Linked DNA regions of Homo sapiens. The protein of the gene in region 1 interacts with the protein of each later gene in a biochemical or structural test. Each region holds a gene or a part of one and is shown on either strand. Other genes may lie near its edges.

Region 1 (3,755 bases):
ATTTTGCTGTGCAAAGTTTTGCACAATCTCAATGTAAACACTTGTAAAGTCCAATGCTTAAATGTTTCCCCCTCAAAAAAAACTTGACATTAAAAGCACTTACTTGTGGTGTGTCTTTCTGCATTGATGTAGTAATTTTAAATTTTGTTCTTTTACTGCTAAAGTTCATATTTAATGAAAACGAAGATTCTGCATCAATATCTTCCTACATTTAAAAATAAAACATTTATATTTATAAAAACCAAAATCTTTAAATAAGAGTTTGCTGCAAGCAATTCTGCTAAATTAATGACCAAGCAAAAAAGCCTCCACTCTCATAACTTTTATATTATAGATTACCAAATTTAAGAGAAAAATAATTCTTTTGTTCAAACAAACAGGAAAAAACCCAATTATTTTCTACTTTTACATCTGCCAGAATCTTAAGCAGTTTATGTTTGGGAATAAGCTATTTTCTGGTCCTACTATTCTATATACACTACTTTTTGATAAAATAAGAGTCAAGCTCATTGCCTAGAGTTTGACATTTTAATTTTTATGAAACACCAAAGTGCGTAACTTTTCCATCACCCCATTTTGAAAAAGCAACCACATTTTTTTTTACAAATGCCGCAGTAACAAAATACCCACTGTAAATGGCCTGATGACAAGAGAAAGCTGTGCCTCCAGTAGCACACAGCATCAATTTGCTGTGACCTGGGGTGATGGTGAAAACATTTATTTCAATCCATGTTTTATTCACTCTTCAAGAAGCAAGTGGCCTTTGCTCAGGGGAAAACTGTTTAGGCAATTTTTAGAATAACAACTTCTGTATCAGGCTTAAGAAAGCCACTGATATCATAGAGTGGAATTTCTCTGGCAGCAGAATCAAAAGGCACTTGGAAGATGAAATAATTCTCAATAATAATCTAAGACATTCTGCTAAGGAATGGACAGATTCATAATTAAATTTAAAGGCCAGGCATGGTGGCTCACGTCTGTAATCCCACCACTTTGGGAGGCTGAGGTGGGCAGATTACTTGAGCTCAGGAGTTTGAGACCAGCCTGGCCAACAAAGCAAAACCCGGTCTCTACTAAAAATTAAAAAATTAGCCTGGCATAGTGGCTTACACCTGTGGTCCCAGCTACTTGGAAGGCTGAGGCAGGATTATCACTTGAGCCCAGGAGGTGGGGATTGCAGTGAGCTGAGATGGCACCACTGCACTCCAACCTGGGTGGCACAGCAAGATCTCATCTCAAAAATAAATAAACATAAAATAAAATTTAAAGTGCAAACAAGGAATCTATGTTTACTTTGTCAATTTCTGGGCAGCAAAAATAGCATGTTTTAGAAAAAAATATAAAACCTTTAAGAATTTACTAGCCTAAAATTAGAAACCATAATTAATTAACCTTAAGAAATCCCTATTTTGGCCAGGCACAGTGGCTCACGCCTGTAATCCCAGAACTTTGGGAAAGACAGGTGGATCACCTGAGGTCAGGAGTTCGAGACCAGCCTGACCAGCCTGGCCAACATTGTGAAACCCTATCTCTACTAAAAATACAAAATTAGCTGGGCATGGTGGCACGTGCCTGTAGTCCCAGCTACTCAGGAGGCTGAGACAGGAGAATCATTTGAACCCAGGAGGTGGAGGTTGCAGTGAGCCAAGATCACGCCATTGCACTCCACCCTGGGCAACAAGAGTGGAACTCCGTCTCAAAAAAAAAAAAAAAAAATCCATATTTTGCTAAGATTCTGATGCCAGATAAATCATTTCTCAAAATTATGAAAACATTGATTTGAATTTCAGAATATGCCTTTTACAGTTGTTCAGTTATAGACTATAAAATGTCATCATAATCCTAGGGATGTCAGCAAAATGAATTAATGAGAGAAATAAACTGTAGGCTATTAACTTTACAAAAATAAAAACAAAACATTATTTATAGGAATTTTTTCTTATAAGCACAATAATTTGAAGGAGATATAATCCCACCTCTGTTGCATTTTTAACTATTTAAACATCTAGGATATACTATGACAACAAAACAGCAAAATCTTGTAACTAGAAAAAAAGTTACAGAGAAAAAAAGTAATATACTAATGGCTTGTTATTCTTGTGACAGATATTAAAAATATATGGTGGTTAAAAACAGATGACAGTTAATTGAGTGCTGACATTAAGAACACTTGGAATGGAGTTACACATATTAAATATGTGTACAAACAGACATCAACAGGCTGTCATTTCCTGTTATAGAACCATGAAATTAAGCACATTTATAAAACCAAAAACCTGGAAAGTCTTTAAAGGCTAGTTTCAAAATCTCAATTAATCAAAATCTTCCAGATGGCAATTCTTTTACAATTATTCAATAAGCTGTAACAGTATAGGACAAATAAAATCAAACTATAAACGGCACATGGCACCAACTCACACAGCATGCTCTGTGATGCCTTAACGCTCGCAGCTCTATGGAGCGTACAGTAACGTAGTGAATACAAGTGCTTTCCAGAGCACAATAACAATTACAGCCTTATTTTAAAACTGCAAACATCTCATGAAAAAGCTTTAATGCTGATGATGCTTAAATTCTTTGGAATATTACTACATACCTTTTCTGAATCATGGTTAATCATTTTCACATCAAGTAATGATTTGATTGTTTTTGTCAGTTCCTTTTCATTCATCTGAGTGCTGTCCTGAAGCTCTTTATAACTGACAGTTTCACTGTTGTTAAAGGCAAGAAGAACTGCCATTTGGTATGTTGTAACCATGGCTACATATGGTTTGCCCAAATAGTTCATTTTAACTTCACCTACAATTAAAACAAAAACTGACAGTGAATTGACCATTCAAAGAAACATTTCAAATTTACTTTATTTCAGACATTTTCTTCGGAAAGAGTGAACCAATAATTTTATTAAATTGTTGTAAAGCCACTGCTGTTAACAAGGTAGTCATTTTGTTTCTTGGGGAGGTGAGGATGGAAGTCTATTAGTTTTGAGTATATGGTATAAATCAGTAAAACTATCATAACTTCACCAGTAGGTTAAAACAGTCTTTAAGGCCAGGCGCAGCGGCTCACGCCTGTAATCCCAGCACTGTGGGAGGCCGAGGCAGACAGATCACTTTAGGTCAGGAGCTCGAGACCAGCCTGGTCAACATAGTAAAACCCCATCTTTACTAAAAGTACAAAAATTAGCCAGGCATGGTGGCTCATGCTTGTAATCCTAGCCACTTGGGAGGCTGAGGCAGGAAAATCACTTGAACCTGGGAGGCGGAGGTTGCAGCAAGCCAAGATCACACCACTGCACTCCAGCACGGGTGACAGAGCGAGACTCTGTCTCAAAAAAAAAAAAAAAACAAAAAAAAAAGTCTTTAAATATTAATAGAAATGCTAAGACTTAGGCAGAAAAAGAAAAGAACAAAAAACCCAAACAATAAAAGGAGGTGGGAGAAGGAGAAATGGACAGACAAAGGGCAAAGTGATATCAGCAACAGCCTCAAGTGCTGTCGATAGCTGGGCTCTCCCAGGTAAGGTTCAAGCCTCCTGGGAGGTCCACAGCCACATGGAAAATGCTTTTGAGGCCCTGTCTAAGCTGTAATTTCTGCCAAAATTAATGCTATTATGTCTCATAAACAACATTTTTCTTTCCAGTAACTTCCTAGAGGCAAACAGGTATGAAAGGAGAGACAAACAGGCAGACCCATTCTCTTGCTGAAAGTTGATAGCAAAAGAATCTGAATGTTTTCATAAAAATGTTTAATCTG
Region 2 (3,755 bases), on another chromosome or scaffold:
GCATTATCAATTTTTAAAATCTGTGCCAATTTGGAAGGCAAAAATACCATAGTTGTTTTAATATGCATTTCTTGTCTTGGCTTACATTTGTTTAATTCCTTTAATAGTAGGTCAACATTATAAACAGGGTTGTACTAGAATGTGTGCCATACAGTGAATTAGAAAAATACACAAAAGATTACTGGACATCTTATACAAGTGAAATCATTTATTTATCTATTCATTTTCATTTATTCCATTTATTGAGTGCTTTTCTATACTGTGGATAGTTCTGAGTACTGGTGAAATAAAAGCAAAAACACACAGTCCCTGCTCTCAAGGAGCTCACAGTTAAGAAAACAGATATGTAAGTATGCTACTGTAATATGGTGTTATCAGCACTCTAATAAAAGTATATACAAGGTTAGTAGTGTCTCCATGATGGGTAAGGAAAGGGTGTTTCTTTAAAAATAATCAGACCCAGAATAAGGGGGGAAACCCTCCATGTCTACAGGATGCAGTAGAGATCTTGGGCATTCCAGAGACAAAGAAAGGTGCTGCAACTTCTGGACATAAAGAAGTTCCAATAAATCCAATCTTACATCATAAAGACTAAGCTTACCATCACCAATTCATACATTGGAAGTTCAAGAACCAGATTTCCCTTATTCAGTTGGTGGTCTGTCATCTTTTTTCCAATTATTTTGTAACATTGGACTAGTCAACATACCATCTTATGACCAAATTTAAAACAAATTACTGGTTAAGGAAAAAAATGACTCATTAGTAAGTAAAGTGACAAGCAGAACAAATGAACCATCCATCCTTCAGGAAACTTTTTTAAAAAAAGATTTTCTGCATGGTTTATCTTGTGGTTTGCTTCTTCTGACAAGGCAGCAACCTTAGAAATGATATCAGCATGAAAAGTTCATGACTTATTCACCTGTGACATAACTTTGGAGTCTCATGGGAGTTCCAAAGTTTTTCTCCTGATCATGAGATTTGGTGGCTTCACATATTTACTTCCCCCCCCCCCCCGCCACCCCTGTGTTAACAGGTTTACTGGCAGATGCAGGAGGTGACATTCCAGTGGCTCCATTATTTTCATTAGTCAATATCATTTATTCTTTGTCATTAAACAAATATTTGGAACCCACTACATTCAAAGCATAGCATTAGGTTTTACTTAGCATTTTACAAACACTTTTAAGTACAATATCAATATGCACATCAATCTTACCTCTACCTCACAGAAGAGGAAAAAGGGAGCTCAAGTTATCTTCTCAAGGTCACATAGTCACTAAGAAGCAAAGGACTCTGAACACAGATCTCTGAACTCCAAACCCAGGGCTCTTTCCAGCCTTCCTTACTAGTCTCCCTGTCCTCAGATTTTCCTGCTGCCTAATTAATGTTCTTAAAACACCAAAGTAGCCCCAGCCTTCATCGCGTCTCATCTGCTCTGAAAATCCACTTTGACTATTTCAGTCCACAGAACTCACTCTCCTCTGAACTCCTATAGCTTATTGTCATATTATTCAACTGGCACTAACTCAGAAAATGCTTAGTGAGATCTGTCTTTAATTATGAAATAATTTTAGTGTCTATTTAGAAGACACTGTGCCCGGTTATGTGAGACTGCTCCAGTACTACTTAAACGTAAGTTTTATTCAGTTCTGCAAATGCTTTTGACAACCTACCATGAGTCAGGCACCATGCTGAGAGCTGAAGACATGGTTTCTGCCCTCAAGAATCTCAGTCTAATGGGAATGTGGATATGTAAACGTTTTACAGACATATGTGTACAATTGGTCATTCATTCATTAATTCAGTAAGCAAACTCAATTTGCAGGCCATGAGAGATAAGTAAAATACGGTCCATTTCTTTTAAGTAACTTGCAGTCTAGGATCAAAGAGAGACGTGAATTTTTTCATTCATTAAATACCTATTATGTGGTGGAAACAAGTGAGGAACACCTATGAATAACATGGTCTCTGTTCACAGAGCTGTTTCCTTTTTAAGGATCATAATCTTCAAAGGTAGAAACTAACAACTACACTGTTTTATCCTGTGTAATAAGAGGGCATAGCAAAGCCTGGGCCTATGGATATTTATTGGATATTGATTCATTCCTTCATTCTTGTATCTACTCCAAGTCTCTCTTGGTAGTTCTTACATATCATCCTTTTTTAGACCAGCTCTAGATAATGAATCTAAGATAGAATTATCATAAACCTTATAGTTCTAGTGTAAGTATTTCCAAAGATACTTGGAATATTTTTCATGTTATTCCAAACACCAACCACTTCTTGGCTTTTTATAGAGAGAATAAAATAGAAATTCCTAAATAGAAATTCAGTTTTCTCACTCTATTACTTTGTTCACATGTTTGATGTCAAGGTGCAAATGTGCAAGTAGTGGTTTTTAAAACCTGCTATTCAGAGAGCAAGGAGTTCCTTTGAGGTTTTTCAGAAATAATACTAGCAGCGAGGAAGACAGGGAGCTTCCCACTTAACCAGAGTATTTTAGCTTTCTGTTTTAAATACTGTGCTTCTAGGTAAAACTTATTTTGCAATAGGGTCCTGCTACTTAATTAAAAAAAAACTGATTTAAGAGACTCAATGTAATAAGACATCATAGAATTTTGGCTTTTTATTTTTTAATATTTCTCTTTTTTAAAAATAGAGTCCTTCCTATGAAGTCAAACCAATCCACTTTTAAAGACAGCCATAGTAGCTATGTTACTGAGCATTTATTACTTGGTGCCAACTACACTGTAAATTGATCATTTAGTCATATTTAGCATCCATTTAATGAACCATTTCACTATACTGCCTACAAAGAAAGCAAGTAATACAAATCAGTGTGCATCATTGACATTACAGATTAATTTCCTAAGAGATTTGCATTTCTAAATATGTCTATGTAGACAGAAGAAATAAGACCTGGTGTTCGATATATCAGTAGGATGACTGATCTATTAACACTAAACTATTGTACATTTCAAAATAGCTAAAGAGAATTCGAATGTTCCTAGTGTAAAGAAAACATAAATATTTAAGGTGATGGATATCCCAATTATCTTCATTTAATTATATGAATATATCATACTATCACATGTACCCCCCAAATAAATACATTATGTATCAATGAATTTTAATTATATGAATATATCATACTATCACATGTACCCCCAAATAAATACATCATGTATCAATGAATTTTAATTATATGAATATATCATATTATCACATGTACCCCCCAAATAAATACATCTATTATGTATCAATGAAAAAAATGTATCTGAGTGGTTCAATTTTTCCATTTGACTCTACTATATATAACACTTATTGAACACAAGTCCATCCTATGAGGTTCAATTGATGTTTTTCCAGATAGCAAAGAGTAACTAATATTTACTGCCTGTATTTCATTTCATCCTCAAAATAATGCTATTAGATAAGGACTATTATTATCCTCATGTTACAGACAAGGAAATGAAAGAACTAGCACACAGAAATAGGTACCCTAAAAGGACTAGGGGTGCAAGAGGACCATGTATGGGAAAACTTTCCAGGTGAAAAGCAGGAAAAAGAACCTCATTCCAGAAGGTTCCATTTCATGTCAAACTTCTCAAACTGACGTAAGCCAGATAGAGAGAACCTCCCAATTTCCACATCTATGTCTCCTGTTTACTCCAATGACTAAAAAAGGCTTGACCTCCCACTCTCTATGGCTGCCAATAACTGCTCTTGAGGAATGGGGTTAAAGTCTGCTT

The links. Proteins that work in one complex are often made in the same cells at the same time.
Region 2: of the proteins of CUL2 (region 1) and DCUN1D5, one has a biochemical effect on the other in vitro, tested with the Homo sapiens proteins (2 studies listed by BioGRID, with this or other methods).

What each region holds. Positions count from the first base shown.
Region 1 is NC_000010.11:35,013,596-35,017,350, forward strand, and holds part of CUL2 (cullin-2), read right to left. Parts: intron 2,800-3,755; coding exon 2,597-2,799; intron 206-2,596; coding exon 104-205; intron 1-103.
Region 2 is NC_000011.10:103,050,498-103,054,252, forward strand, and holds the end of DCUN1D5 (DCN1-like protein 5), read right to left. Parts: 3' UTR 189-3,755; downstream 1-188. UniProt on the Homo sapiens protein: Contributes to the neddylation of all cullins by transferring NEDD8 from N-terminally acetylated NEDD8-conjugating E2s enzyme to different cullin C-terminal domain-RBX complexes which is necessary for the activation of cullin-RING E3 ubiquitin ligases (CRLs).